Regions from separate parts of the Homo sapiens genome. Here all the other regions are linked to region 1. The links come from fine-mapping of genetic effects on gene expression. A gene starts in region 1. Each other region holds a variant in brackets. All regions are shown on one strand. Distances are between the middles of the regions.

What was found. PIP is the estimated chance that this variant, and not a neighbour inherited with it, causes the effect. A credible set is the group of variants that fine-mapping cannot tell apart.
Region 2: its variant is the best candidate, but not a certain one, in a credible set for the expression of COBLL1 in blood mononuclear cells (TOPMed, PIP 0.79).
Region 3: its variant is the best candidate, but not a certain one, in a credible set for the expression of COBLL1 in sigmoid colon (GTEx, PIP 0.69).
Region 4: its variant is the best candidate, but not a certain one, in a credible set for the expression of COBLL1 in sun-exposed skin (GTEx, PIP 0.64).

The regions. Positions count from the first base shown.
Region 1 is chr2:164,838,083-164,845,900 of GRCh38, reverse strand. It overlaps COBLL1 (cordon-bleu WH2 repeat protein like 1), which reads left to right and starts at 4,078. Exons shown (of 14, transcript NM_001365672.2): 1 at 4,078-4,191; 2 at 4,655-4,745. The coding sequence starts at 4,705. LOC101929633 (a long non-coding RNA gene) reads right to left here and starts at 5,152. Exons shown (of 2, transcript NR_110574.1): 1 at 5,079-5,152. RefSeq lists a silencer at 3,895-4,104.
Region 2 is chr2:164,748,768-164,756,585 of GRCh38, reverse strand. The region is part of intron 2 of COBLL1 (cordon-bleu WH2 repeat protein like 1); the gene reads left to right. Among named protein-coding and RNA genes, the nearest start is that of SNORA70F, 65 kb to the right of the region's middle. The variant A/G (reference allele first, on the strand shown) is at 3,199.
Region 3 is chr2:164,985,708-164,993,525 of GRCh38, reverse strand. No RefSeq gene overlaps it. Among named protein-coding and RNA genes, the nearest start is that of SLC38A11, 34 kb to the right of the region's middle. The variant C/G (reference allele first, on the strand shown) is at 3,511.
Region 4 is chr2:164,720,402-164,728,219 of GRCh38, reverse strand. COBLL1 (cordon-bleu WH2 repeat protein like 1) reads left to right here. Exons shown (of 14, transcript NM_001365672.2): 5 at 23-251; 6 at 5,698-5,795; 7 at 5,909-6,145. Among named protein-coding and RNA genes, the nearest start is that of SNORA70F, 37 kb to the right of the region's middle. The variant G/A (reference allele first, on the strand shown) is at 3,955.

The DNA.
Region 1 (7,818 bases):
AATTAACTATTATGCATATATTACTGAATTGAGAATAAAGCTACAATTCTGACTTTCAGCTCCCTGTTTTCATCAACAAAGTCTTATGCATAAATAACATAACATATTTTCTGAGATTGGGCAGTTTCTATGAAATACAAAGTCTGAAATAAGACTTTTATTAAAACTGAAATGTAACAACTCTGATCTTGTTATATAAAACCACAAACACACACATGTACACAATCTAAGAAGACATAAAATAAACACTTCCTTTAGGTTGTAATGTGCAAAGGTGAAATGCACAGAAAGATATTAACCATCTTTTAAGTGTAATTTTTCAGTTTTAAATAAAGCTTTTCAAGTGGTACTTATAGTGGAATAAAAACATACTTAAAATAAGCATTTAAAAATGTTTTCATTATTCCAAATAGTTTACAAAAATTTTAGACAAACTCCAACCATTATGGCCCACTTTAACATGCCTATCTGCTTTTTATATAAGCACACAGGTATTTATTAAGCATGTAAACCTCCTTTCCATTTATTACTATCCAGGAGGAATATGAAACCTAGATTATTATTCAGAGAGATATATAGCTAAGTGGACCTTCATTTAGCTTCATTCTACCCATTGATTTTGGTACTAACCCCATTAGGTAACCACGTGAAGAATAAGTCTTCTTTCTCTAGTAAGACAAACTCACCTTCCATCTGTTCCATTTAAAATGGCCTACCAGCCCCTTTGAGTTGAAGTCTTTCCCTGAATCAAGTTCCTTTTAGGATTCTTCTGAGGAGGGAAGGCCTGAAGGTTTCCTTCATTCCTTTATTCAGTACACAAATACTGGTGGAGAGTCTCCTGTGTTCTGGGCTATGCTTTCAGGAGACAAAGGATAAGACGTGGTCCTTTAAGAGTAGGCTGGGCACTGTGGCTCACGCCTATAATCCCAGCACTTTGGGAGGCCGAGGCAGGCGGATCACAAGGTCAGGAGTTCAAGACCAGCCTGGCCAACATGGTAAAACCCCATCTCTGCTAAAAATATAAAAAATTAGCCGGGCACGTGGCACATGCCTGTAGTCCCAGCTATTCGGGAGGCTGAGGCAGGAGAATCACTTGATCCTGGGTGGTGGAGGTTACAGTGAGCCAAGATCATGCCACTGCAGTCCAGCCTGGGTGACAGTGAGACTCTGTCTCAAAAAAAAAAAAAAAAGAGAATAAACCCCTCCAACTCTGCATTATGTAAATGAATAACTGAAACAAAGTGTCATGGGTCCTTGCCCTACCTAACAGAACCTACTGGGGGCCAAGAAAGGGAAGGGCTACTTCTATTTCTGCAATGAGGGAAGTATTCCTGAGGGGATAATACCTATGCTTAGGCACTTAAAATGATCGGCTGGGTGGTGAAATGAGGGGGAGATTCCCAAACGGGGAAATTGAGCGCAATCTTGGAAACGTGGGCAATTTTGAAACAGCTCTGCATAACTAGAAAGATTGGAAAACAGCAGTTTTCTCCTGTTATGTGAAAAGATTTATAGCAGCCAGGCATGGTGGCTTATGCCTGTAATTCCAGCACTTTGGGAGGCTGTGGTGGGCAGATCACCTGAGGCCAGGAGTTCGAGACCAGCCTGGCCAACATGGTGAAACCTTGTCTCTACTAAAAATATAAAAATTAGCCAGGCGTGGTGGTGGTCACCTGTAATCCCAGCTACTCGGGAGGCTGAGGCAGGAGAATCACTTGAACCCCAGAGATGGAGGTTGCAGTGAGCCGAGATCGCATCACTGCACTCCAGCCTGGGCAACAGGAACAAGACTCCTTCTCCAAAAAAAAAAAAAAAAAAAAAAAAAAGATTTATAGCAAATCTGTGATTATTATTTTGCTAATCACTGGCTACAGTGAGGATAGCTTAGTACCATTATGTGAAGACCACCAAGCTTGGTGGTGCTCTTAAGTGGTTTTGCCCAACATGAGCTTATTTCTTGCTTATGTGGATTCTGTTGTAGGTCCTGGGACTCTCCAGGGCAGCTGTGCTCTGGGTAATAGTTTAGCATTCCAGTCTTGTGTCACCTTCATTTTAATACATGCTTTCATGATTGCAGTAGCAAAGGAAGGGAACATAGAGACTCAAACACTGGCAGTAATTTCACCAGGAAATAAAGCATTTCATGTCTGTTCACATTTCCACTTATCAAAGTCACAGGGTCATACCTAATTTCCATGGGGTGGAGCATATAGTTCTCCCTAGGACCAGAAGGAGGACAGCAAAAAGTGGTAAGCACTGAAAATGCCTTCAGTGGTTACGAAATGTTATGAATGTTTTATGACTAAGATTAGCCTAATCTTACTGGTATTAGGGTCCATAATATTACTAGTATGTCATAAATTAAGGCTGAAACTAATTAAAGATTTAATCTTGTCTTGTGATTGAAAGTTATGGACTTTCAAGTAGTTTCACTGTTACTCAATATTTGCATCATTGTCTGTGCAAGCAACTGTAAAAGCTTGCACAGCTCTGTATTCAGAAGCATAAATGATTCATGAAATTGTTTAAACAGAGTTATTGTTTAAAGACTAAAACCCAGAGGTATTTAAATAAATTGCTTTACTCTTAGTTAAAATCTCTAAAAGCAACTTTTTCTAATATGGTTCCAGTATTGTAATCCAAATGAGCCATGTGTTTTTTTCTTTTCATATTTAAGATGCACTGAAAGGACATTATGCACTGAAAGAAATAAATACCAATGCCTGCGTGTGGTAGACAAATGGCACATTGCTAGGCATTTAGTTCAGCAATCTTTTTTTGTTGCTGCAATGGATAACCAACTAAAGGAGCATTAATATCAATTTAATTGTAATACCTGCCAAATGTTATTCTATCAGTGGCTAACACAGGTTTATTACTTGATGTTAGTGCTACAACAGAAGTCCCCTGCAGGATGTTCCTTCCTGTAAGATCTCTCCATCAGTTTAATCCAAATATGTTTTTAAAACTCTAATTTTAAATTCATTTCTTAATGTCACGTTGTTTTCTGAAAACACATTTTTGGGCCCATCAGAATGGCGCGCATCTTAAAACAATTGGCGCTTATGAAAAATATAAAATATGTAAATATATTAGGGTGGTGCAAAAGTAATTGCGGTTTTGTCATTACTTTTTAAAAAAAAAAAAAATGGCAAAAACCGCAGTTACTTTTGCACCAACCTAGTACCTGTCTGTCAGGTGTAAAGAATCATCTAAAGGGCATGCACGTGGATACTAAAACGTACAAACAAGCACACAGCTGTGTCTGATTCCTTTACCCTTGTAAAAGTTCCAATAAGTGAATACAATCTATTACTTAATTCTTAGTTTATAGACTGTCATTAGACATACTGTTGTCCAGTTCTCATGTCAGAGCTGTTATAGGCTTTTACAAAAAATGCCTCTGAAGACAGGGCAAGCTTAAACCTGCCACCAATTAGAAAGATCTGTGTCACAGGTGCGCTTTTAAAAGAATGGCAATCTTAAAGGTCAAGTTAAAAACACAAATTTAAAAAAACGATCCTGGACGTCGAGGGTCGGACTCTAGGGGGGGCAAGCTGCAGGCCCCACTCTGCGAGTTTCTGACCGCATTCCGCGGAGGCCCCAATCCTCCCCGCGGATCCTGGCAAGGCAGGTAACCTCCCTTCCCCCGCACCTGTCCGGTTCAGGCGCACCAGCCTTCCCGAAGCGCAGCCTAGCGGTGGGAATGGGAACACCTCGTCTGGGAGCTTTCTTTCGGTTCAGCTTCCCCAGCCGGACCCCAAAGACCCGAAGCCCTGGGGGAAGGAAATTCCAACTTGCTCCCGGCCCACCCCCGCCCCGTTCCTCTCTCCGGCTCGCTGCTTCCCTCGCTCCAATGCCGCCGAGCTGGTCCCCACTTATGTGCGGCCGTGCTGCAGAGGCGGCGGCGAGCTCCCGGACTCCGGGCAGGGAAATGGGGCAGGGTGAGTGAGAGAGCGGGCTCCAGCGAGGCCCCCAGCGCCCAGCCAGCGCCCGCACCCCGCCCGCGGGACAGGGGAGGTGCTGAGTCGGCCCTGCCCGCGCTGGGCTGAGCCTCGCAGGGGTTGCCGCTTCTCCATTCAAGTCCTGGCTTGAGAGCCGAGCGGCAAGAGCGCGGGCCGGGGAAGGGAAGAGTAGGAGAGGAAGCCGCGAGGGAGAACAGGCGAGCTACTGTCTCCTTTGGAAAAGAACGTAGGAGCCTTGGGTGGGAAAAGAGAGATCAGCCCTCCCAACTTCTCTTCGGGAAAAGTTTTCCTAGGGCGTTTTGTTTGTGCAAACTCGGCCGGAGGAGCCTGGGAGTGCGCTGCCGGCGTGGCAGCGGTGCCCGTGCGCCCGGCCCCGCTCCTCCTCCTTTTCCAGCCCCGGCGGCTCCTCTCCCTCCGAGAGGCGCCAAATGGCTACCCAGTAAACCCCACGGGGCGGGGGCTGCAGCGCCACCGCCTCCTCCGCCGTGCTCTGGGCGCCCGCTAGACCTTGTAGAGACGGCGGCGGCGCCCGCGGGCTGGGAGCCGGGGCCCGCAGGTGGAAGCGCACCCGGGAGGCGGGCCGGCCGGGGCTGGAGCGGCTCGGGCGGGCTCTTGACGCTCAGCCAGCTTCGCTCCGGCCTCGGGAAGGCGCGCGTCCCGCCCTGACCCGCCGGCCTCTCCCACCCCAGCAGTGACGCGCCGCCTGGGAGCTGGAGCCCGCGCAGCGCCCCGCAGGGCGATGGACGGCCGAACCCCGCGCCCGCAGGACGCCCCAGCCAGGTAAGCCCAGAGCGCCGCGCCGCCTCTCACCGGGGAGGGCGAGGCCGGCGAGGACAGCGAGGCCTCGGCCGTTTCACCTGGCTGGCAACTCGCTGCCCTGCCGGCGGCCTGACTCACTGACTGTCCTCCACGCGGCCGGGGAGGCTGCTTCCTCCCGGCCTTCTCGGAGGCCGCCCGGGCGGAGGGCTCGGGTCGTTTTTGGTTGCCTTCCTACCGGGGCTGCCCTGGGTTGCTACAGGCCAGCTGAATGCCAGGAATTGGGTGAGGAGTCCGGGAGCAAAAATTGTAACAAAGGGACCCTTGTTTGGGCTCTGGGGGAGCGGTGGACGATACCTGTAAGTGAGCTCCTGGGGAGGGAGGGCAAAAGTTTCCTTGGTCATGGGCTGAGGCCCAGGCAGGTGAGCAATGTCAAGGTGACTGTAGGGAGTGGGCTTTCTGCAGGCGGGTGGAGGGCGACAGGAGGGTGTGCCAGCTGTCAGCCCGCATGACAGTTCCGGGAGCGAGCGGGGTGCGCGCCTCTGATTGGGGGTGTGTGTGCCTGTGGCCAATTGCTGGTTCCAAAACCCAGCGCAAATCAGATTGCAAACAACTCTACTTTTCTTTTTATCCTCACATGTTTGAGAAGAGAGGAAGGGGGCTGTCACATGGTGAGTTAATATTAAATGAGGCATGTCTTCCTGCCAGATATGCTAATAGTTACCTTGTTAAGCGTTTGAGTAAACAGTAATGAGAACAGGTAGTTCTGCAAGAGATGAAGAAAACCTGAAAATAACCTTGGTCTTAGTAAATAGTTCAGGAGTAACCTGGATGCTAGTTGAGTTTCTCAAGTAGGAAACTCGTTTGATGTAGTACAAGATTTTTCCCCCCAGCATAAGTGTTCCTCCAACATAGTTTATTTTCTTAGTTAATCTGAATGCAGAAATGCCCTAATGAGAATACGAGCATTCCAGAAATAGAAACGTTAAGGAAAAATCGACGTTGTCACTAATGAATGAGACTTGTACAGTTTTCCTGATTTAAGAGTGTAGAAGTCATTTTTCCCTGGAACATGACAGGCGTTTCCTTAGAAGCAAGTCACAGCATGTTTATTCATCAGAGACCATGCGAACATTGGCAGCTGTCTAGAGGAAACATGGAAAAGTCTCAAAGCAACATGACTAATCTAAAAGATATTTAGTATAATTTTTACATAGAGGAAACATGTAGTGTATTAATTATTTCATTTTGCTCAAATTAACTTTCTCCTTTCTGCAAATATTACTCCCACTGTTGACTTTCATTTCTTTTCTTTCCCCAGGTTTTTCATTGCTTAAATATTTTCATATATCCTGACATATATTCTCACATTAGGATGAGTAAAGAAATATATCGGTAGAAAGATATTGAGCATACAAGCAAGGTTCCTAAGTGGAGCTGCAAAATTATGTGAATTGACGATGAGACAGCTGTCAGGATACCGAAATGTATTCAGGGATTGCAAAATGAGATAGAATTAAATTGGATTTGGAAATGGATTAGGTTAAGGTACTTTAAAAAACAAAAAAGAAAGAAAAACATACCTGCTTTCACAAAATACACCCATGGGTGTTCAGAAGTCACTGGGGACTTTTAAGTAAAATAGGTGAGGTCAGATGGCTCTGTGTTGAAGAAACAGAAGAACACTTTTTGCTGGCAAGCATAACTGTAGTAAGAACCTTCAGACTTTACTCTTGATATTTTATTTTAATGTAGAGACAAGGTCTTGCTATGTTGCCTAGTTGATCCGAAACCCCAGGCTTCAAGCAATCCTCTCACCTTGGCTTCCCAAAGTGTTGGGTTTACCAGTATGAGCCAGTGCGCCCAGCCACTTTTGAGAATTTAAAGGTTAAACTGATAAGTTCTTTGCTTAAAAAGAAAGTACAAAAGAGCCTTATCTAATTTGTCAAGCATTTGTAAAGGACTTTTGCCGTCCCCTTTTCAAATTTAAGTAGGGAAAATCTGTCAACACCTTATCTAAAATAACACAGTAGTTCTATCATTTTGCCTTACATTATTCTACTCAGAGAAGTTATCATTACCTGAAAAATATCAACATGAAAAAATTACCTCTCTACTTCATTTGTCTTATTTCACTTGTCTAACTTGTCCTTTGGCATATTCCGAATGCCTGTCATATAAGATTTGTTGAATATTTAATATTCAGTATTGCTTCTCTTCTCTCTCAAAAACCCAAATTATAAAAGGTTTAAACTGGGGGAAAAATATCTAGATAAGGGTATTTGGGAAGTGGCAGGCAGAAATCTTAATATGTTATAATTGTTAGGTTTTGGAGATAAATTTCTTGCTATAAAACTGACTAATTATATCATAACTCATTACTTTAATAGACAATGAAGCCTAGTTTAGTCTTTATCCTTGGATATTACTGTTGGAAAGAATTCCTCTGTAATTTTCCAAGTTTTACATTGTTGTAACATGTCATTTTAACATAGCACCAAGTTTTGTTCTCCACATTTTATAAATGAGAATCTGAAGCTCAGAAACACTGAGTGTGTTGAAGTCCCAGCAAATTAGTAGTAAAACCAGAAGAAAAACTCCAAGTGCCTAGTTCATTTTGTTAATTGCTTTTTATCTTTTCTTGACCATGGTATGATATAACATACCATGACGTTATACATTTTAACGGATAACTTATATTTAACCATTAACTCTGTAATATTTTAATACATTTCAGGAAAAATGTAGTTGATATCCTTATCTTCACTTTTATTAATTCTATGATAAATTAGCCCATTCAGGGAATGAGTATTTTAGGAAAATAAAATTGTTTTATGGCCTCTCAGCTGCTGCTTTTTCTTTGAAACATTCTAAATAATAATTGTAACATCAAAAGGGATAGTTTGAAGTTTGTTTGGTGCCTTCACACATTTAACTCGCATTTAGCATTCTACGACATTGTGAATTATATGGGTTGGGTGTCATTTTCTTTTCAGTGGAAGCAATGGTGTGCAGAAATAGTGGCTGCCGTAGGGTCTGTGCTGGTGAAGTCCCTGCCTTAAAAGGGTCTGATCCTGTGGTCATCTTGAATGTCTTT
Region 2 (7,818 bases), 89 kb after region 1:
TTATAGATACTAGAATAAGTTTATTGACTTAGAGATGCTGCTTAGGAATAAACTATTACTCTATCAACTTTTATAAAAATATATTTTGCCATTTTTTAACTATTTTAGATATTATAAGCAAAACAAAAAATAGAAACCAGGGTTTTGGAATTGAAAATATTATTAGGATATTACTAAATGTTAAAGAAATTTCCCTGGAAATTACCTGAAGATGATGAGTAGAGGGGGAATGGAGAGAGAGAATTATGTTACTTAGCATCTCAGTAACTGGCTATCATAGTGAATATTAAACTTTTCCTCACCACAAGTATTTTTAGGAGTCATATGTTTTCTACTGGAGTACATATCTGCTTAGAATAGGAGAATAAGAGTTGCTTCAGGAAAAGTTACTTGGCAAGTGAATTTGGAATAGACCTCTAGTGAAAGCCAAAGGAAAATAAGTGCTCATGGTGCTCACTAGCACATTCCCTCACTCTTGCTCTCTCTCTCTCTCTCCCTCCCTCCCTCCCTCATTCTCTCTCTCTCTCTCATGCTGCCATATACACACTATACGCACGTATGTATACTCACACATTTGTATGTGTGTACTATATGTATAGAATGTATTTAGAGTAAGGTGAACAAAAGCTGGCCCTATGTCTATTAAAGGTCTGAAATGATAACTAAGCATGAGGCAGAACAACTTCTAAGATGTATTTGGGAACCACCCTTGCACAGCATAGTGATTTTTTATATATACATGAAAAGTATGGCAGGATGATAAATACTGTCCATTTGTTTACATGAATTTAAAAGGGCATTTAGAAGCAAGTGAACTATCTAATTTCATTTAAGAAATAACAGCTTTTGAGTTGCGAGCTAAATTAAATTTAAAGAATCCTGTCATTACCTACATGACCCTTTTATTACATGAGTTAGAACACAGAGCAGGTTATGTCTTTCTGGGTATATGACAACTAAATTACAATAAAGCTTCATCTACTCATGCTAACCTTATTCTCAAAGGTCTAATGATACAAAGAGGTTCTATTGTGTCCTGTGGCCCACTTTACATAATTGCTATGTTCCTTAAAAGTAGTAAAAGGGGAAGATTTGAGAGAGGTATAACAACAAAAAATCAACCTAATGAAACTATATTTAAGTAGATTCATTCTTTAAGAATTAATTGAACATACTATGCAGAAGGTAATGTACTAATCAAAAATGGCAAAATTATGTTAATGGTTTTTGACTCAAAAAATTTTTCTGGTGGATAAGGTGATGTACTTTGGAAACTATGCACAAGGTACCCTGGGGTATTTCACTCCTGCATTGTGCTAGTCACTTGGCTACGTCTTTACTCTTTCTGCCATACTCTACATGCTAGAGGGAAACCTGTGTCTTTAAAAACAACATTTAAAAAAATTTTCATATATTTATTGCAGACAGGGTCTTGCTTTGTCACCTAGGCTGGAGTGCAGTGGCACAATCGTGGCTCACTGCAGCCTTGACATCCCAGGCTTAAGTGATCCTCCCGGCTCAGCCTACCGAGTAGCTGAGACTAGAGGTGCATATCAGCATGCCAGGCTATTTTTTAAATTTGTTTGGTAGAGATGAAGTATTATTATGTCATCCAGGCTCTTGGCTTCAAGTGATCCTCCTGCCATGGGCTCCGAAAATGCTGAGATTACAGGTGTGGGCCACTGCACCCAGCCGGAAACCTGTGTCTTGTCTTTGGATTTGCTCTACTTCATTGTCACACAGAGATGGGTGTGATAGATCATCATAGCTAATTATTGAACAAAAGGATTTACATGTTTCCTTTAAATATAGACAAGGTCCTAAAAGAATTTAAAATAGACTTCTGTGTAAAACAAGAAAGGTTCTTGGATTGCAAAGACGATGTGCTCTAAATGTAGGTGATGCCAGGAGCAGTGCTTTAGAACAGCGAGTACGTCAAATCACCTGAAACTGAAACTCAGGTACAGCGTGTATGTAGAACTGTCATTCTCTAGTTTGCTGGTTGAGTGATGAGACTGCAGTCAAGGTGTAGGCTGGGGCTCAAGTCTTTACTGGGGAGAGATTTGCTTCCAAGCTCACTCTTGTGACTATTGGCCTGAGATGTCAGTTGCCACATGGGACTCCCCATAGGGCAGCTGGATTCTCTCAGAGCAGGAGGGTACCTAAAATAACACCATGGTCTTTTCGTAACCTAATCTCAGAAATGACAGCCAATCACTGTTGCTGCATTCTATTTACTGGAAGTGAGTCACTAAGTCCAGCCCACGTACAAAGGGAGGAGACTGCACAAGGAAGCAGTCATTGGACATCATCTTAGAGAAGGCCCACCATGGTAAATGTATTTCCTTAAACTGAGTATATAAAAATATTATTTTAACATGTAGTCAGCATACAATAATTACCAATAGATATTTAATACCTTTTACTAAGTCTATGGAATATAGTGTGTATTTTACACTTATAGCACTTCTCAACTCAGATGTTATATTTTCATTGGAAATACCCGATCTGTATTTAGATGTCATGAAATTTATACTTGAAAAAATAGATTCTGGGCCAGCACGGTGGCTCACACCTGTAACTTCAGCACTTTAGGAGGCCGAGGCAAGTGGATCATTTGAGGATAGGAGTTCATGACCAGCCTGGCCAACGTGGTGCGACCCTGTCTCTACAAAAATTAGCTGGGCATGGTAATGAATGCCTATACTTCCAGCTACTCAGGAGGCTGAGGCACGAGAATTGCTTGAACCCAAGAGGCTGAGGTTGCAGTGAGCTGAGATCGTACCACTGCCTTCCAGCCTGGGTGACGGAGTGAGCCTCTGTCTTAAAAAAAAAAAAAAAAAAAATTCCCATACTCAACTTATCCCAAATATACTTAAACATTTTCCAGTAACTGAATCAAGTATCAGTTTTAAAATTCAAATTAAAACTAAATAAACTAAAACTGTAGTCCCTCAGTCACACTAATTATGCTTCAAGTGCTCAGTAGCTACATGGCCGCCATATTGGACAGCAGAGTCCTAGAAGTTTTGCTGCAAAAGAAAGGCGGGTAATGACAAGGTACTTGAAAGAGTACTTGGAAGAAGCAGGCAAGTCGTATTTAAGATAATAGAAATCTCTGCATTTTTTTTTTTTGTTTGTGCACCTTGGAGAGAGAGATTTAAGGTGGCAGAAACATGGGATGTAATTGATGGGACT[A/G]TGGATTATTGGTCAGACTTAAGTGGAGGTGCTATGGGGGCAGAAAGCCTGAAGTGATGAATGGCTTGTGGTAGGGACTTGGTATTCCAGGTGTTGAAATGTAAAATAATTGAGTGTGGGAGACTGAAACAAGAGCTTTTCAAAATTTTCTTTTGGGTTTGCCATTCCCTTTATCATTTTTTCCTAGTGTGAATGCCAAGAGAGAGAAAAGCACTTGGAAATGGATCCCATTTTCCAGGCTTCTGTTTCCTGTGAGCCTCAGAGGAGACCCTTTCCTGACCAGGAGCAGAAGTGTTCTCAGCATAGGAAGAACTCCCTGGGAATGGGCGTCCTGTCCATGTGACTCTTTCAACCAAATGCTACTTGTAAATTAGTGCAGCCACTGTGCCCTGCCTTGACCCTAGTCCTAACTATCTTGTCTCCATTTCCAGTTTCTAAACAAAATTGTGCATAAATATTTTATGTCAGAGGTAAAGGGGCATGGGATCATCTTGTTCAATACCTGTATTTTGTAAATGAGAAAATGGAAGGCCAGAGAAATTAAGTGATTTACTTACGGTAACACAAGTGGCCATTTAGGATACTCCCAGGCCTTTTGATGTCCAGTATATTGTTTCTCCAACCTCACCTGGGGAAGTAGCTGTCTCAGTGGTAGGGCTGGGGTATGGGTACATCTGGTATCTGCCTTCCTGTTTAAATGTTGAGGCTTATGGCCCTTGCTAGGGTTATTGGGTAGTGGGGAGTGGATTTGGTGGGTTTTCATTTGTAGTTGTCCCATGCTCTCTGTGCTTTTGGGCAAATTTCTTAAACCTCTGTAAACCCCAACTAAATGGCAGTGGTAACTGCCTCATAAGATTAAACGTAGACAAAAAGCACCTGTACAGGACTTAGAAGATATTCAATAACCACATATTTTTTTCTCCTTCACTACCTGGCTTTTGCTCATTCACTTGTTGTTTTTGTTTATTTTGATGAATGTTTAAGATCTCAAAGAAATGATGTAATGTGGTAGTAAAGAGCACCAACTTCAGAATCAGACACCTTGGGTTTAAATTTCAGCTCCACCACTTACTGGCTAAGGAACCTTAGGCAAGTTCCTTAATCTGTCTGCATGTCACCCTCATCTGGAATGTGGAGGTGGCAGCACTTGCTTCATATAGTGTAGTAAGGACACGAGTTAGTGCAGGTAAAAAACATTTTCTAACACACAGTCAACACTCAAGGATTAGCTGCTGTTGATACTGGATAGAAACTACTTTTTCTTGTGTTCTGTTTGGCTTTTACTGTTGGGACATGACACTAGCATTCCATATGTGCTTCTTTGATGTGAATATGCCACTGCCTCTTTGCTTGGTACATTATACCAAGTATAACTGAAAGTTGAGTCCCATTCCTAAAAATGAAAAATTAGATTATTCTTTTCTGATATTAATCATAATTCTCATTGGTCAAAGGAAGCTACAGATTTGAGTCCTGTCCCACAGATTACATGGCTTCAGGCAAATTACCGAGCGTCTGGGCAAAATGAGGGAGTCTTCATACAATCTAAAATTTTGTCAGTCCCAATTTAATCCCTTCCCCAAATAGGAAAACCATTTAGAAACTTCCTGAGGATTGAGATCTTTTATCCATGTGCATGTCTTTGGGGCTTATTTAAACACTGGGAGTTATTTGGGTGGCCTTTGCTAGGGTTATTGGCGGGGGGATTTGGTGGGTTTTCATTTGTAATTGTCCCATGTTCTATGCGCTTTGGGGCAAATTTCTTAAACCTCTGTAAACCCCAGCTAAATGGCAGTGGCAATGGCCTCATAAGATTAAATGTAGACCAAAAGCACCTTTAAAGGACTTAGCAGTAGATATTCATGAATGACTTGAATGACTTCTTATACCTCTGGCTACAGAACAGGTTGACTCTCAGCAACCCACCAAGTTTTTGCTCTCCTATGAACTGATGAAACTAATATGACCTTCCCTCCCTTCCTTCCTCAACTAAATAAAAAAAAATGCTCATAGAGAACCCCATCTTGTGCCAGTTATAGTTCTAGGTGCCAGCAGAGAATGAGACAGGCCACGTCCCAGCCCTCCAGGAATTTTTATTCTGGGGTCAAATAAAAAACAAGGAAATAAGTAAATAAGCAGGATGATTTCAGATAGTGATAAATGTGATGGGGACCAAGCAGGGCTATGTGAAGAGTGGGCCACGATGGGTGGGGTGTGCCTTGGTACCTTTTTTGAGTGGTTAGAGAATACCTCTAAGAGGAGGAAATATTTTATCTGAATTCTGAATGACCTCAAGGAGCAGGCAATTTGAAGTTTTCTGGTTAAAAGCATTTTGGACCGAGGGCAAAGCTATGGAAGGCTCTTGGATGTGAAGAGACTGGGTCTATTTCAGGAAAGAATGCCAGTGTGAATTACATGGGGCATTGAAACTGGGAGTAACAAGAGGGGCGCTGAGGTTGTCTCATTGGTTCTCAGACTTTAGCATACATCAGAATCACTTGGAGAGTTGTCAAATGTGGATTGTAAGGCCCTGCCCTTAATGTTTCTGATTATGTCTGTCTCAGGGGTGCGGCAGCCAAGTACTATGGCTGCTGCTCTGAAACCATACTTTGAGAACCACCAGGCTAGCTCATTTGGGGCCTGCAAGCCAAGGAAAAGAATTTGGGTTCATCAATGCATTGGAAGGCCAGTGAAGGATTAGAGAGATGTGATCTGATTTATGTCTTCTTTCTTGTTTTTCTCCCCCACTGACCTAATGGCATACATATTTAAAAGTTCACTCTGACTACTACAGGGGAGAATAGATTTTAAGGGACAAGAGGAGAAACAGGAGAGACCAGTGAAAAGGCTTTTGAAGCAGTTTGGGCAAGAAAAGATGATGCCTTGATTACCAGGGTGGTAGCAGGGAGCTGGTGAAAAGTATAGAAGTTCAGGATATGTTTTAGAGTTTAGATCCCAGGGGAATTGTTAACAGATTGGAAATAGGAGATAAAGGACAGAGAGGAATTAAAGTATGCCTGCTGGAGTTTTTTTGCTTGAGTTAACTGGGTGGTTAGTGGAGCCATTTGTAGAGATGGGGAATAATATAGAGTAGGTTTGTGTGAGAATGAGGATTAGAGATGAAGAGGAGAATCAAGTTTTGGTTATAGAACATTTGAGATACCTATGGGACATCCAAATGGAGATAACCATGAGATTGTTGGGAATAAAAGTCAGAGCTCAATAAACAAGTCAGGTTGGAGATGTAAATTTGACGGCCACTGACATATAGTGATATTTGAAGCCATGGGCTTTTATGAAGTCTCTTGGAGGTGGAGGTTGTAGAAAGAAGAGAAAAAGGCAGAGAATGGACCCTGGGTTGCCCCAACATTTAGAAATCAGAGGAGGTGAGGATGGGGAGACTGAGGAGTGGCAGTGAAGAAGGAAGAAACAGTAGATTGTGTGCCCACATGAAGAAGCCAAGGGAAGACAATCCCTCACAGAGGACTTGAGTGGCTGTGAAATAGTGCTCAGTGTGACCAAGATGAGACAGACAGTTGTCTATGATTTGGACCCTCATAGGTTATTGGCAACCTTGAGAAAAAAAAAATGTAATATGAGAGTCATATAATGTTTTGGGTTTCTCCTTGTCGATTTTCATTATTGCATATCTTTTCAAGCCCTTTTGACATACTCACTATTTGAAATTAGGCTCATCAAGAAAAAAGGGCTTTATTGTTTTTAATTGTATTCTCTTGAGCACATAATACAATGTTATGCCCACTTCTGAACAAATCTTGTTTAAAAAATTCTTCTGTTGTTTCATTAAACCCAGACAGAGAAACTGAGAAATCGTGTTGAGAAATTGGTCTTCAATTTATAATTGAAATACATACTTTAGTGGCCATCAAAACACTGCCAGTTATTTTGAAGGACTGCCTCATCAACACTTACCACAATAAATCCTATCTATGTTTGATTGCCCTCTTTGTGCTGAGAGAGGGTTACTGTTAAATTTATTTTTGGTCTTTAGACTGCAATACTTAAAAACCCTATTGTTTTAAGACTGAGAATTCACTCATATTTTTGTATTTAATATTGAAGCCATATTTTTTGTATAGCACTTTTCTGAATGAATCTATAAGAATACTTTATAAATATGATAAATACAGCAAACTGATGAGAGCCCATTGGAGTTGAGTAGCTTATTAAGGATGTAAGTATATCTCATACAGCATTTTAAACCTTTGCTTTTTCAAATCAAGACTAGAATTATGTTTTGCTGAGCTCTTTTATTTCCTCTTTTTATCTATTTTAAGGATATTATATTGACAGTAATGGAGTAATGATTACAGTGGGCACATGATTTTGGAGTGCCCTGTAAATCAAAATGATAAAAAGACCAATCAGCAGTAATAGTAGGACACTAATTGAATTCGGTGTTAAAATGAGATTATGATATTATCAAAATATATTATTGAATAATGCAAATTTTGCCTTAATTCTCATTATTAAAATTGAGTATAATATTGAGATAATTTTAATAAAGCAATGATTTGCATAAGCAATAATTTACTGTAGCTTGTTATTTTTAAGCTTGAATAATGAATTTTTGCCCTGATGTGGGGGAGTTTTCTTATT
Region 3 (7,818 bases), 150 kb before region 1:
GGAAGTAGACAGGTGCCATAGGATGCGCAGAAGGAAGCGCTGGTGTAGGTGTGGTCCACAGATGACTGGAAGGGAAACGGAGCTTGCATTGGTGTCATTACCAACAGGTTTGTGATATGTATACATTTCTGGATGCAGTATGGTTAAACAGGCGCATTTAAAAGAGCCCCCACCCCAGAGGGTGAAAATATAGACCAAAAAAAAAGTTCATTAAAAAGCAAATTTTCACTAGTGGCTCTGTAACTATGAATTTACATTTTAAATTTCCTGATAACTTTTCAACCACAAAGATTGAGAGCCTGGCCAAATTATTTGGTTCTCTGCCCAAAGATTGGTAATAGAGTCACGTAGAATATTTTTTTCTCCTCTTTAAAGATGAATCAGAGGATGCTGGGTTTCACTGAACATTTCTGAAGATTTTCCACATCACAAAGCCCTCCAGGCACAGCTCAGCATTTTGTAGAACAGCGTTAAATCTTAAAAGAAGTAAAATGCTGCCCTCTCGTGGCGGATATACAAAACTGATGAAAACAGTATTCCTTCCTGTTATTGAAAAGCAGCCAAGTCCAAAGCAGAGAGCAGTATTTAGATTTTAAATGAGTTTGCAAATAAAAAGACTAGAGTACCTTAATATGACGTGAGTAAACCTTTCAGGAAATAAAATTTTAAATCAGATCAGATCAAAGTGTTCCAAAATGGGGCTTAATACTGTAATTACCACCATGACTCTGCATATATGCAGATTTTCCCCCAAGGAGTTCAAACTTTGACTCAAAATCCAGTAATCTTGAATCCTGGTCTAATCCTTACCATCTAAAGAAAGCACACTTAGAGTAATTGTTCAATAGAAAATTTATCAGGTCCTTCCTCATCCTGCCCCCAGCCAGATGTGTTCTCTTCCTGCTCTGAATTCCAATAAGACATAATGCTACATGTATATGGGTCTCTTTTTCTGTCGGCACGTAATAGTTTTAGAACCTTTGTGGCCTCTAAGATAGGCATGACACGTGGTGCATGCTTAAGAAATGTTTGAATAAATGAATGAATAAATAAATAGGAATTAAATGAATAAATGTATAGCTATGATAAATATTCCCTATTTCCCTTATTTAAGCAAAAAAAAATTACTATTTGTTATGCAAATACCAATGCCTGCAAGTCTTGTTGCACTGGCTCAGAGGCCATGCAACATATCTTTGAAAACAGTCAGGAAGGCAAGAGTGGCTCCAAATCAAGCCTGGGTGCATTGCTGTACTTTGTGGACATCAGGAATGGGCACTCTGGCTCTGCCTACTCCTGGATAGGCCCTACAAGGATTATACAGATTCTGACACATAAAAGCAAGGGAGAAGAATACCTGAGAAGCAGATTAAGGCAGGGTTCCTCACCCCACTGCCCACAGGAAATTCTCTTCAGTGGGCCACAGAGCTAAATGTACAAGCCAAATGCTTCCTGAAAGGTTGGTGCAGATGTAGTAAACAATAGCCTATGTAAGCACCACTGAACCACATCAGTCTAGAAGTTTCTGTTTCTGATTCAGGCACTGTTCCCAGGTCAGGTGCTCTGTGAGTGCTAGCTGGGAGTGGTGGTGTTGGTGGTGGTTGAGATATAACAACACATAGCAATATTAGATGCCTATTAAGTTCAGGCTCTGAATGACTCCTGCTTGCCCTTGGACAAGCAAGCTGGGAATGTGTGAATGTCAGCAGTGGGTATTTATACTTGGCTCCAAACTTCTCCAGACAAGTTCTTACTTGTTCCCCTCCACCAGTGGTTGCTTGAGCCTTTCTGCTGTTTAGCCTCATTCCTTTAAGCTGTGAACCCAGACTCCTCTTTTGAGTCCTTTTATGGATAACTTGATTCAGTCACAATGCAACAGACTCCAGGACAACTTTTTTTTTCTCTATCTCTGGCTCCCAGAACCACAGCATAAATTTAAAAAAAAAAAAAAAGGACTCCCTTCTGTGCACTTCTTGGGCACTGTGACAGCTGAAGGACAAGCCTGCCTTTCAGCCAGGATTCCATTTCCCTAGAGAATATTAGGTATTGGATGAGATAGGAGATGAGAGGTAAAAATGAACAGTGGCACACACACACACACACACACACACACACACACATGCTTCTAATTGCCAAACTTCTCTAAAGGATGCTTGAGACCTGTCCCACTTTCTTTAGCATTTACTAATTCCTTGACTTCCTCTGACCACAATACCCAGGCCTCTCTCTTATGGAGCTCTAGTGGCCCCCCTTGCTGAACATCATGGTCTTCTCTCAGTTCTTATTCTCTTTGACATCTTGCCAACATCTGACTTTTCTGACATCCTCAATTGCCTGTTCCTGGAACAGTCTTCTGATTTTCCTCCCAGGACTAATCACAAGTTAGTAAGAATCCAAGCAACTTTTATTTCTTTCATTGATTTATTTATTTTTTGAGACAGAGTCTTGCTCTGTTGCTCAGGCTGCAGTGCAGTGGTGTGATCATGACTCACTGCAGCCTCAAATTCCTGGGCTCCAGCAATCCTGCCATCTCAGCCTCCCAAGTAGCTGGGACTATGGGTATGTGCCACCATACCCAACTTTTTTTTTTCTTTTTTTTTTTTTGGTAGAGGCAGGGTCTTAATATGTTGCCTAGGTTGGTCTCAAACTCCTGGGCTCAATCAGTCCTCCCACCTCAGCTTCCCAAAGCACTGGGATTACAGATGTGACCACCACACACAGCCCATTTCTTTTAAAGCGTCCCAACATTTCCATATGTTTTAAATATTTATTGCTTCTAAATTAAAAGTTTAATACATATTCACAAAATATAGAGACATGATCTCATTTAGAGATCCAAATGTGAAGCTTGTGTGACTGTGAAGGCCCGCTGTGATGGGGCCATTGTAATAGGTTTCTCTTACCTCTCTACCTGGCTTTCACATCTCCTTCAATAACTTGCTTCCTCTTCTTGCTGCAAGACTGGGTCCTCAATCCCAATCTCTCTCCACTTACTTCCCCTTTGCCTACCAATCCTGCCTTCTAGCACCAGATGGTTTTTTGTTGTTGTTGTTTTTTGTTTTTTAAGATAGAGCTTCACTCTTTTGCCCAGGCTGGAGTGAAGTGGTGCGATCTCAGCTCACTGCAACCTCCACCCCCCAGGTTCAAGCAATTCTCCTGCCTCAGTCCCCCGATTAGCTGGGATTACAGGTGCCCACCACCACACCCAGCTAATTTTTTGTGTTTTTAGTAGAGATAGGGTTTCATCATGTTGGCCAGGCTGGTCTCGAACTCCTGACCTCAGGTGATCCACCCGCCTCGGCCTCCCAAAGTGCTAGGATTACGAGCATGAGCCACCACACCCAGCCCAGTTGTCATTTTTATACTAATGACTACTCAATTGATGTACCAAACCAAACCTCTCATCCAAGCCTGGATTCCAATACCTCTAGTTGTCTACAGAACATCTAAATCTTACCATTTGCAAACTGAACACATCATCCTCCCTCTGGTTGGCAAACTAGCTTTTCT[C/G]TTTCTCCTATCTCAAATCTTATCTCAGCAGAAGCCAAGGGTTCCATATAGGGCTATCTGTAGAGAAGAGGGTGCTCATCCTATTTCAGCTTTCAGAATTATGATGGGTATGGTGGTCTAAGACAGAGAAATCAATTTGAAGGAATTTGACAGAATATTATAGCTAGTTATAATGGGATGGATAGTAAGCTGTTAGACCTTTCCAGAAAAGAAGTTCTCGAAGTAAAAGGCAGAGTTCTGACCTTTTATATAGAAACTGGTGCAATGGTTATGGGTGGAGGGGCAGCTGTTAAGGATGTCCAGTTTAGACATCTCTTAGCAAACTGGAAAGCTATCTCCTTCATGCTTATACTGAAGACCCATTTGTTAATTACATGCATGTTGTCTTAGTCCATTTGTGCTCCTGTAACAAAATACCACAGACTATTTTATAAAGAAAAAAATGTACTTTCTCACAGTTTCAGTGGCTGGAAAATATAAGGTAAGGCTCTAGGCATTTGATCTAGTGAGGGCCTTCTTGCTGCATCCTCACATGGCATAAGGTGGAAAGGCAACTAGACAAGCACTGTGTGACGCCTCTTTTATAAGGGCCTTTTAACTCCATTAGCCAGGAAGAGACTGTAAGGCCTAATCACCTCTTAAAGACCATCTTAATACCTTAATACCGATCTCAATCACTTCCTAATACCATCATATTGGCAACAACTGAACTTCGGAGGGGACACATTCAAATCATAACATATGTTGTAATAAGCTGCAAAATGTAAGTTTTAATAGAATAAACTTTTGTTTACCTCTATCATTTATTCACTCTATGAGTTTTTTTGTAATAAATTTTTATCCCAATATTATAACGATCTCTCAGGAAATCTCTTTATGGTCTGAGATCATCTGACAGCACCATGTACAATCTGTCCTTCTCATAGGAGCAGATGAAATCAACCAGTGGTATTGATGGTTATCTTTTCTTAAGCCGGTTATTGCAGGCATCTGTCTGTCTCTTTGTGGAAGACTCCATGCACATTACCACAGGAAGGAGATCTTGTGATGTAGGCAACTTCCTGGTTAAAGCTCTTGTCAGTTTAAACATGATTACTTACTTTCTGACGTTTGCACTAAGTAGAAAAATATGGTACTTAGAGTCCTAATGAGTATCAACTTTAACCTACCCCAAATGAGGTAAGATCATTGGATATCAGAATTGGAACACAATTTATGTCCTGAAAAAAATAATGAGAAAGATCAAATAAGAGTTATGTAATCTTACTGCAACAACCTAGCTGTAGGAAATAGACACCCTCTATCATCTGCCCCAAAAGATGGAGTGGTCTGAGCCACTAATCCAATTCTAGGGATCCAGATGATTCAGGTAATTCATGAATCCCATCTTCAGACAGAAGGCAAGAGCAGTGCATGAGATATCTCAGTAGCATGATATTCCATTTTATAGGAGCTAAGGGGAAATTGAAACTCTGTGTAGAGTCTCTGTCTCTTAGTGTACTGAAATTTCTCTTTCATTGTAATAAAAAAGATCTGGCCCAAAGGAAAAAAAATTGTCAAAAATTTTGGTATTTCTCAAGGCACCTGAACAAATATACCATAGCCATCTAGGGTTATATTGTCACCACCAGTTGTGTAATTAAAACAAAAAAAACCTTTAAAATTCAGTATCAGAAAGATATAATTAAGAAGAAGAATATCCTTTTATGTATGACAAATCAGCATGTAAATACTTAAAGACTAAAGCTAAGTTATTTTTAAACTATTCATTTTTAAATGATTTGTACAAACATTCCTCTAGGATATGACATTTAAAAATAAAATGTGATTCTATTTATAAAGTCTGTATTAAACAGAATGCTGTATTAAATAAATATATCTAATATGAATGGAATTAGAACTAAATTTTAGTTTGGACAATAGATATTTGTCCAAAAAACTTAAGATTGCAGAAAAGGCTACAATGGCTGATTTCCTTTGGCAAATGGTGGCATACTGCAAGAAAATTTTATCAGAAAATTTTTGTTTTGTCCTTATTTTAGCCTAAGAAAGTTTATAATTCAATTCCCCTTACAAATATATCATAATAAAGATTAGGTGAATTTACCTTGTAAGAGGAAAATTGGAAAAGAGGAAATATCATATAATTTGTAACAACATTTGCAAGGAAAATTCTATAATTAATATATGCCAAATATATTTAGTGAAACCAGAGTTTATTGTTTACCATGCAGCTAGAAGTCCTAATATATTTTTCTTTGCTCTTTTTTTCCTGTTTTTAATATAATCTGTTCCTAAAAACTGCCCAAGTCTTCACCAGCCAACTTAAGGTGATTCCGTGACACCCCATTAAGTTATCATTTATCCTCATTGATCTCATCACCTGCAAACTTTTCAAAGATACTGATACTCTATCTGTCCTTCCTAAATTACCATAGTTCCCTTCATCCCAGTTTCTACTACTACAAGTCGTTGGAAACTTGCTTATGAAGATTGTTACTAATAACCTAATCCCCAAATCAAACCACCTTTCTCTCTCCCTTTATCTCAGTCAAGTTTAATCAATATTTGGCCCTATTAATGTTCCTCTTTTTCCTTGAAATTTATTCTTTAGGTGTTTTATTCTAGCTTATCCCCCACATTTCTTTTTGACAGCTCATTTTCAATCTGTACCTCTTCTACACACTAAGGGCTTTTCTTTGGTTCTGACTTTTCCTCTTATTCACAATTGACAGTTCACATGACCTCATTCTGTATTTCCCCTCTCTCATTTTCCCAGGCTTAAACACTTGGAGAGATTTTCTCTTAACACTCCCCTAAAAATGTGAGTTTATCTCATGGAGATTTAATAAAGCAAATGCTCTCTCCACAAAGAGATATCGTTGGACTGCTAAAAATTCAACACTGTTCTCAACTAAATTTTCTCCATTTATATTATTAAGACAGACTAATTAAACCCACAGTTCTCCACAATGACAACTGCCCTTACAGATTTGCTTTAAAAAAGTAGTCCATATATTCACTAAAATCTAGGGGATATTTAATAATATGAGTGCACCTCTTTTCTCCTTTAGGATATGGACAGGAACTTTCATTCAAAGTCAAGGCACATGCCTAAAATATTGCAGTAAGACAGTCTTCTCATTGTCTGTAGCATATACAGACACTGCTTACTTCTCCCCTTAATTCACTCTTAGATACTGAACTAACACTATGTTAAAGCAGAAATATGCAAGAATGTACTCTTAATAAATAAGGTCCCTGCTTAGTTGTGGTGGTATAATGTGAGGGGAAACTCAGGCAGTAAACAAGATCAGAGAAAAAAAGGAGGCAAGACAATCATAGTTGACAATAGATCTGTTCTTAGTTTCAGTTCTGTCACCAATATCTCAGAAACCCAGAAACAAAGGATGTATGGCTAATTCTACCTGAGAATTTCAGTGTGGCTCCATTTTGATGCAATCAAAACTTGAACTCATTTTCCAAGATTGAAAGCAATAGTCCCCCTACATACTACATATGGCTGTCATTGTCATTGTCATTTCCCCTTAAAATCATTTCATACCCCATTATATGTTCTATTTATGAATACCTTCCTTGGTCCATGAATCTGCCTTCACTCTCCGTATTCTTCTTCAGACCTAGACAGTATGCTTTTAAGAACTGAGTAACTTCATTCAGGATATGGCCACTACTATGAAGATGACTTTTGGACAAAGGACTGGTTTTAGGAATCCTGAAAGTTTCTGGGAGACTTTACCAGTCTTATTTCTGCAAGTCATGATTACCACATATTTTGTAGCTAAACAATTGCTGTTCCTACACAGTAAGATCATCATCTTGGTAAGTGACATTTTCATCAGTATGGGTTATTCTTTCATTCCATAATATCCTATCACCCAGACTTGGCCTTCGGGTTCTGGTTCACCCTTAGATATTTATGTTTTACGTTCTCCTGTGACAGTTAATTTATCTTGAGCATATCTCAGTCCCCAAAAAAAATGCTCTAATTTTTTTATATTTTTAAATGACTGTCACAGCAGCATTATTCAGAATAGTTAAAAAGTAGAAGCAACCCAAGTATCCATCAGCGAATTCGGATTAAAAAATTCTGCAGGCAACCAAACTTTTATTCAAGTGAGAGGAAATCAGAAAATGCAAGTATCCATTTACCATTCATGGGGGAAATAATTCTTTGATACTTAAGAAAATACCACAGCTGACTAAAAGAATAAATAAAACTATTAAATCTCAAGAGGTAATATGATATTAAAAATTGATTATGTATACTGCACCCATTAAAATTAA
Region 4 (7,818 bases), 120 kb after region 1:
ATGGCTTTAATATGTGTTTCAGAAAACTGTGAGAGTAGTGATTAATTTTAAGAAAACACAGAAGACCATAGTGAGAGTGAGTCCACATGCATCGCTTCAAGAGCTTGCCCCTATTATATGTAGCAAATGTGAGTTTGATCCGTTGCATACACTATTGTTGAAAGATTATCAATCGCAGGAGCCTCTTGACTTGACAAAATCTCTTAATGACCTGGGACTAAGAGAATTATATGCGATGGATGTCAACAGAGGTAAGTAAGACTTTTATTTTATTTATTTAGTGGGATGTGTATATTTGTATATGTTTGTGCATTGTGTTTGTGTGAAGGTGTTCTCAAGTTCATAATGGCAGTTAATGGGTCCTATAGATAAAAGTAATTACTTGGCATTAGGAATAAGAAAACAAAATGTTAATAAATATAAATCAAGTTAAATATAACAACTTAATTTCAGTTATTGAAATTGGAATTAAAACTTGTCTTTTTAGCCATCATCCACAATTTATATTTTTTCTTTGATTTTTTTTTTTTTGGTAGGATTTAACTTAATTCTTCATGGCTTTGAGGCTTAAACAGAAAATAAAAATTTACATATAAAGTCATTGTTATTCTAATCAAGTGTGAATTACTGTGGACTCACTATGATTTTGTCTGAGTCTTAATTATCATTCAAGTTTGGAAGTTTCTTGCCAAATTTTTCCTAAGGTCAACACCAAAATAAGTTGGCTTATGAAATGTATCAGTCTAATTCAAAAAATTTTTGAAATAGCTCCCAGTTTTAATCTATAGAAATGATGTATTAAAATTTGGAGATCTTAGATAATGCTGGTTTGTATGATGTCTAGTAGACAAATGCAAACATTTATTCAACATGAATCTGTTTCACTAAGAGAAATAAAAGTTTAGTGAAGCTGACAATTATTTACATACTCTTTGCATAGAGACTTCAAAATTTATCCTGAGGTGGTGGCTTTATGTAATCCATAGACTACTTTTTCAACTCAGTGATGTTTTATACTTGAACAAACATCATCTTCACAGTCAATTTACCCTCTTTTATACCCCTCCTTCTGTAGCCACTTCTGTTACTGTCTTCAGTAAGTCATCTTTACAAGGTAAGATGTATGAATCAGTAGAAACAAATTATAACATGAAATTGGATATATTGAAATTAAGCTTCTAATTTTACCCTTTCTTAACATCACTAACGTGTTCATTCTGTATGAGATTTTAACCTAGAAAATATTTGGGTTTTATTTCCTTGAAAAATGTATAGGTTCCTTCCCCTTGATTTCTGAATTTAATTATAATAATTTCATTTCAACAAATGTTTAAAAATTATTCTAACAGTGTGGGAAAACGTATTCTTTACTCTCATACAAGGAAAAATGATTTACTAGGATCTTTACTGGGTACAAATGCTAATAGCTTGGTAGTACCGAGGAAGCATTTCAGATTATTTCACTGAACAGTAATTCAGAATAATGGTGTTATATTAATCATATGAAATTTTGCAGTCATTGTTTGTGAATATTTTGTAATAAGATGGAAAATGCTTATGTTGAAATTAGCTTTTATACCATATAAGTGTGTTTAACACAATAGGTGAATAAATGCTTTTATATGAAATTGCTGAAAGGAAATACATAAAAAATTTCAATAGTGGTTACCTTTGGGTGGTAGGGTTATGGTATGTGATTTTTTTATTATTTATTTTCTTTATAATACAGAATTATATAATGGGCATACATTCCTTTCATAGAGAAAAACTGTATTAAAAATTGCCCAATAATAAATTGTGGAAGTCTTTTTTCACCCATTAAGAAAAAGTCTCAAATAATTGATTACCCTAATAATTACCAGCCTACTAAAAAAACAAGCCTTAACAAACTGCATATATTATGTGTTAGTGAAATCTCACCTTCTACTTCTATAATAATAGGAGATTAGAAATAGTGGTCTCTGTGGTTCTTTCTAGCAACAACATTTTATTACTTGTACTTGACTTTTACTCCTAATTTTGCCACTCTCTATCTGCATAATCCTAAGCAAATTCCATAAACTTTCTGGCCTCATTTTGAGGTTGTCGAATGCACTGATTTCTAATATCCCTTCCAGTAATGGAAGGATGTGGTTTATTTAGAATATGAAATGTTGTGGACAAATCTTAAGAGAGTGAAATATTAAAATTAAGAAAGTTTACAGTATCAGAATCTACAAGGTCAATCCAAATGCTGTCACTACCCTTGCCTCCTTATTTTTTCTGATACTATTTTGAAAACTTAGAACTTACCATGCAATTATATTTAGCCTGCCTTCTAGAAACAGGAAACTACAGTATTTGAGTTGCTTTTCTAAGTAAGCTAAAGCCTTTGCTTGTCTTACTGTTTAACCTGACTTGCTATGATCCCTGATGTAGAGCTTTAAGTGAAAACTTAATGGCTAACTAGTGTGGAGGATGACCATGTACCTGAAAATTTCTTCACCAAAAATAACCATATGGGCCAGGCACGGTGGCTCACACCTATCATTCCAACACTTTGGGAGGTCAAGGTGGGAAGATTGCTTGAGCCTAGGAATTTGCGACCAGCCTGGGAAACATGGCAAAATCCCATCTCCACAAAAAATACAAAAATTAGCCGGGTGTGGTGGCACATGCCTGTAGTCCCAGCTACTCAGAAGGCTGAGGTGGGAGGATCACCTAAGCCCAGGGAGGTCAGGGCTGTGGTGAGCCATGACCCTGCCAGTGCACTCCAGACTGGGTGACAGAGTGAGACCGTTTCAAAAAAATAAATAAAAAATAAAAAATATTCTGGTTATATTTATTGTATTGCACAACCATATGAATTTTTCATCTACTGTTCTGAGTAAATTTAATTGTGTATCCATATGCGATAAGCGGTGTATTCCATCTTAAATTGAAATAGTGGCAAATGTAAAAATAATACAAATATAAATAATCTTTAAATGGATACCAGTTTTAGTTCTACTGTTTAATGCCTGTTTGTCTTTGTGCAAGTTACGAAAACTCTCTGTTCACTTATAGTTCCTGAGAGCGTAATGGAGTAATACCACTGCTTTCATTTTATATATATATATATATATATATATATATATATCCTGCAGGGTAAATGCTAGCATCTTCCAATGAGAAAAAGGGCTCAGAGTGATAACTTTTGATACTTCCCTCACAAGGTCATTCTAAGAAACATTTAGGCATGCAAAAAAACTTTAACCATAAAGTGCTATCTACGTGTTCGTTATTATTAGTTGCTAGCATTGTCAAACTCATTGTGCAGAATGTATGCTGCTTATTTAATATTTGAATCATCAGATTTAAAAGTTTTACTTTGTAAAATAGTTTTCCTTTCATATGTTATTGAGGCATATTGTATTATTGTATTTATTTGGTGTTAACTAGCTTTCCTTTCCTGAAGTAGTCCCTATTTTGCCATAATTTATTTTGGTTTTCTTAGACAGGTATTTTAAATAAAAGCATTTAAGACTATATATTTATCTATTAGTTTAGCTTTAGTTATGTCTCACAAATTTTAATACACAATATTTTATGTCAAATGTTATTGAAATTATATTGTGATTTACCATAAAATCCATATGTTGCTTAGTAGAAGAAATATTTTTTTAGTTTTACAGATCACCACTCATTGTTTTTCCAACCTTTTAGAAAAATTTGCTACTCATTTATTGAAGAAACTAGGTCATTTGTTTTATAGCTTCCCGTGTTCAGATTTTTACTGTTTGCCTCCTGTGGTGTCACTTAATGTTTAACTTATTGCCAATGTCATTGAAATTTTATTTCAATGTAAATTTCCCCTCTCTTTCCTGTAAATTGATGGTTAAATCTAGAGGCTTGATCAGATTTTGGCGAGAGATTTTTTGGCAAGAATACTTCACAAGTGTTGCTGTGTACTTCCATCAGCAAACATGTAACAAC[G/A]AGTTATTTTTTTCTGATGTTAGCCATCAATGATCTTTGTCTACATCTTAGTTAATTAAGATTTGAAAAATGGTGAAAGTCTATTGCAGTCAATATTACTGAAAAAGTAAGGTTCTCCGTGTCAGCTATATGACTGCTACATAAGTCGAATTCAATCAGAAAAAGGTAGAATAGGCTGGATGAGGTGGCTCATGCCTGTAATCCTAGCACTTTGGGAGGCCGAGGCGGGTGGATCACCTGAGGCCAGGAGTTCGAGACCAGCCTGGCCAATATGGCGAAACCCTGTCTCTACTAAAAATACAAACATTAGCCAGGCATGGGGATGCATGCCTGTAGTCCCAGCTACTTGGGAGGCTGAGGCAGGAGAATCGCTTGAACCGAGGACTCAGAGGTTGCAGTGAGCCAAGATCACGCCACTGCACTCCAGCCTGGGCGACAGAGTGAGATTCAAAAAAAGACTGTCTCAATAAATAAATAAATAAATAAGAAAAGAAAAAGGTATAATAAAAGTTGGATGATTTCCTTTCATCAGTTTTTAAAATAATGGACTGGTTCTCTAGCATAACACAAAGGTGAAAAAAGAGTTTTTTTTTTTTAGTATCATTATGAACATATGAAATTAAACACATGTGACATGTTTCAGTTTATTGAGTTACTTTTATGATGTCCAAATTATCCTTATTTTTACCAGTAGAAACTGTCTCAAGTTGGTTCCTGAGTCCTTTTAACACAACCTGGTAGACTTTGATAGCATTCTTTCTAGTATGGCTAGATGTCCCAAGTTTATCTTGTAGATTCTTTGATACCAACAGAGAATCAACCATTCTCAAGTAATCATGGTTTCTTTTAATGGGAAATGGAATTTATAGCCAATTTGGGCCAGGGAGGCTCAGCACTACTGGCTGTGTCATTGTTTGTAGGCCCTTCAGTTGATATTAGGAGATGCTTTTTGGAAAATTTTATATAAATATTATGTATACAACCTTGAGGTTTGACATTTGCCCTTCTAACTAAAGTAGGGCTTCCTAATTTTCAGCACTATTAACATTTGAGACAAGATAATTCTGTCATTAGGGACTGTCTTTTGCAATGTGCTATGTTTGGAATCCTCACTGGCCTCTACCCAGTAAATGCAGACAGCACAGTCTCCTAACCTCATTGCCAATGGTGGCAATCAAATTGTCCCCAGACTTTGTCAAATGTCCTCTGGGGGACAAAATTGGTCCCAGTTGAGACCCACCCTATTAAAGAAATAACTTTTATGAAACATTTAACAAAGTACTGAGCAATTATAATGACTCACATTTTGTAGAATAAGATATTTCATAGTTGTTTAGCTGTGAGACAAAAGTATAATCAAAATAAAGGAACAAACTGTGTGGTAGCGATTTCATGTCTTGTGTAATTTGAAGTGTCCTTTCTATTTTGCTTCTATACTTCAAAAGCAGAACACAGACTCTGAGTCAAAAAAATTGAGTTTGTGTCGTAGCTCTGTCATTTCCTGAGTGTTGGCCTGGATTATGTATCTTAGTTTTTTAAGCTTCAGTTTCCTCTGCTGTGAAATAGGAACAATATTTGCTTGTTGCTTTGAGAACTTAATAAGATTTAAGGTGCTTCTTTGTAGACTATAATTAGTAGCTTTTAGCATTAGATAAGTTTGCAAAGGGGAAGTAAGAGAAAGAAATCTTGGAAGTGAACAGTCAACCTCACATACAAAAGTAAGATGCTTTTCTTCTATTTTAGAGTCCTGCCAAATATCACAAAACCTAGATATTATGAAGGAGAAAGAAAATAAAGGGTTTTTCAGTTTTTTTCAACGCAGTAAGAAAAAGCGAGACCAAGTAAGTATTTTCTTATATTGCATTTTGTAAGATTCTTCAATTATTTTTAATTACTAATGCTTTTTACTAATATCTTGAAATTACTAGATTTTGTCTTTGTCATTCTTTACTAGACTGCAAGTGCCCCTGCAACCCCTCTAGTAAATAAGCACCGCCCAACTTTTACAAGGTCCAATACCATTTCCAAACCATATATTTCCAACACCCTGCCGTCGGATGCACCCAAGAAGAGGCGGGCTCCACTGCCCCCGATGCCAGCATCTCAGAGTGTCCCCCAAGACCTTGCACACATCCAGGAGAGGCCTGCTTCTTGTATAGTGAAATCCATGAGCGTGGATGAGACAGATAAGGTGTGTAGTTTTGTTTTCTATTTTGTTTTTTTGGATGAGGCAGTGTACCATTTATTTTTCCTCTTACCTAACATCTTTTCTAGGTAGACTAGTAAGAAGTAGTCCTATAACAGTTGGTAATTAGTAACAGTTACTAATATGTAATAAGATGAATAGCTCATTCTAAGATTGGTACTAGGAATAGATCTTCTATGTACATACAGGTCTGTGATGCAGTAAAGGATAAATGTCCATTTTAAGTAACTTTCATATTCAAGCAAAAAAAAATCTGAAAACCTAAAGTCTTGGTTTACTAAGGCCTAACTAGGGGCTCTTGCTAGGTGCATGTAATAGGAATGGAAATACAGTCTTTATTTTTGAATAGTTCTTTTTTATACAGTAACACAGTCTTTGAGTTGTGTTCATGGGTTTCTAACCACACGTATTTTCTTGACCTGACTCAGATTCTCCAGGGAATAGCCTGGTATCTACCTAGTACATAGATACTCCACAGTGAAAAAAGAAAATGAGCCTTTTTATATAGAATATATCACAGTTACCTTTATGCACCCTTATCTTCAAAGCACAGTTCTATGTGTACCTTTTTCTCAAAGTTTCTTACTATTACACACCTTTAATCTCAAATTTTCCCTGAGTTTGCCATTTTGTGGAGATCCATTTGCAAACTACTTTTCATGACTAAACAATCTGCATATTCCTTGCTTTATCCATGTGAAAAATAAATGAATTTTTAGGTATATATGATTGAAGATGAGACTGTATATATTGTTGCTGGTAATCAGAAAGAATGATTTAAGTAACTTTGAGAGCAGATTTTATTTGGAGATAATTGAGACACTGAGAAGTTTTCTTGTGTCTAGTTGAAAGATTTTGTTTCCCCCTTGGGGGCTTAGTAAATGCAATGCTAAAGTAAATTAACTCTTCCCAAGCACCTGGTACACATTTCTGTGCTTCCTTTACTTAAAAAAAATTAACCATAGTTTTAAAATGTAGTTTATAGGCTATCATACATGCAACTCAAAGAGATAGAAATGAATTTTGAAAATGCTTAACCTCAGTACTTGGAAAATTATCTATTAAGTTTCTTATTTCTATGAAGACTTTCTTGTCTAATTTAGTATTTGTGGTATAAAATCTCATCTTATAAAATCTCATCCAATCTCACAAATCAGGAGGATAATGTTTTTGTCAAGTTATAGAGTCACATACTGACAAAGAATTTGCAGGGTAACTGCTTGAGAGTTGGGAGAATCTTCACGGAGAGATGATTCTTGAGTTCACTCTTAAAATATGTGTGGGAGTGCATTAGGCCAAGGAACCCTGTTAAGAGACGCAGGAATGTGAACACGATGGCTTGCCTGGACATGAGCAAGAAACAGAGACTGAAATTAAGCATGGTAAGCAGGGGTCAAGTCAGGGTCCCAAAGACTTTATTTTGTGCTTGTAGCCCTTTTAAATTTATTCACAATAAGAAGTAGCATTTTTAGGGTTGTTGTATCATAGAAGAGTGTAAATTATACTCTTGAGTAGCTACCTTTTTGCATATATTAATATATATAGAAATATACTTTAGCCCATGCTCACAAATCTTTATTCCAGCTGTCCTCATCCAATCTATTTCAGTAAACTTCCTTTGTACTTGGCTCCCCAAGAGGTCTATGTTGTCTTTCTAA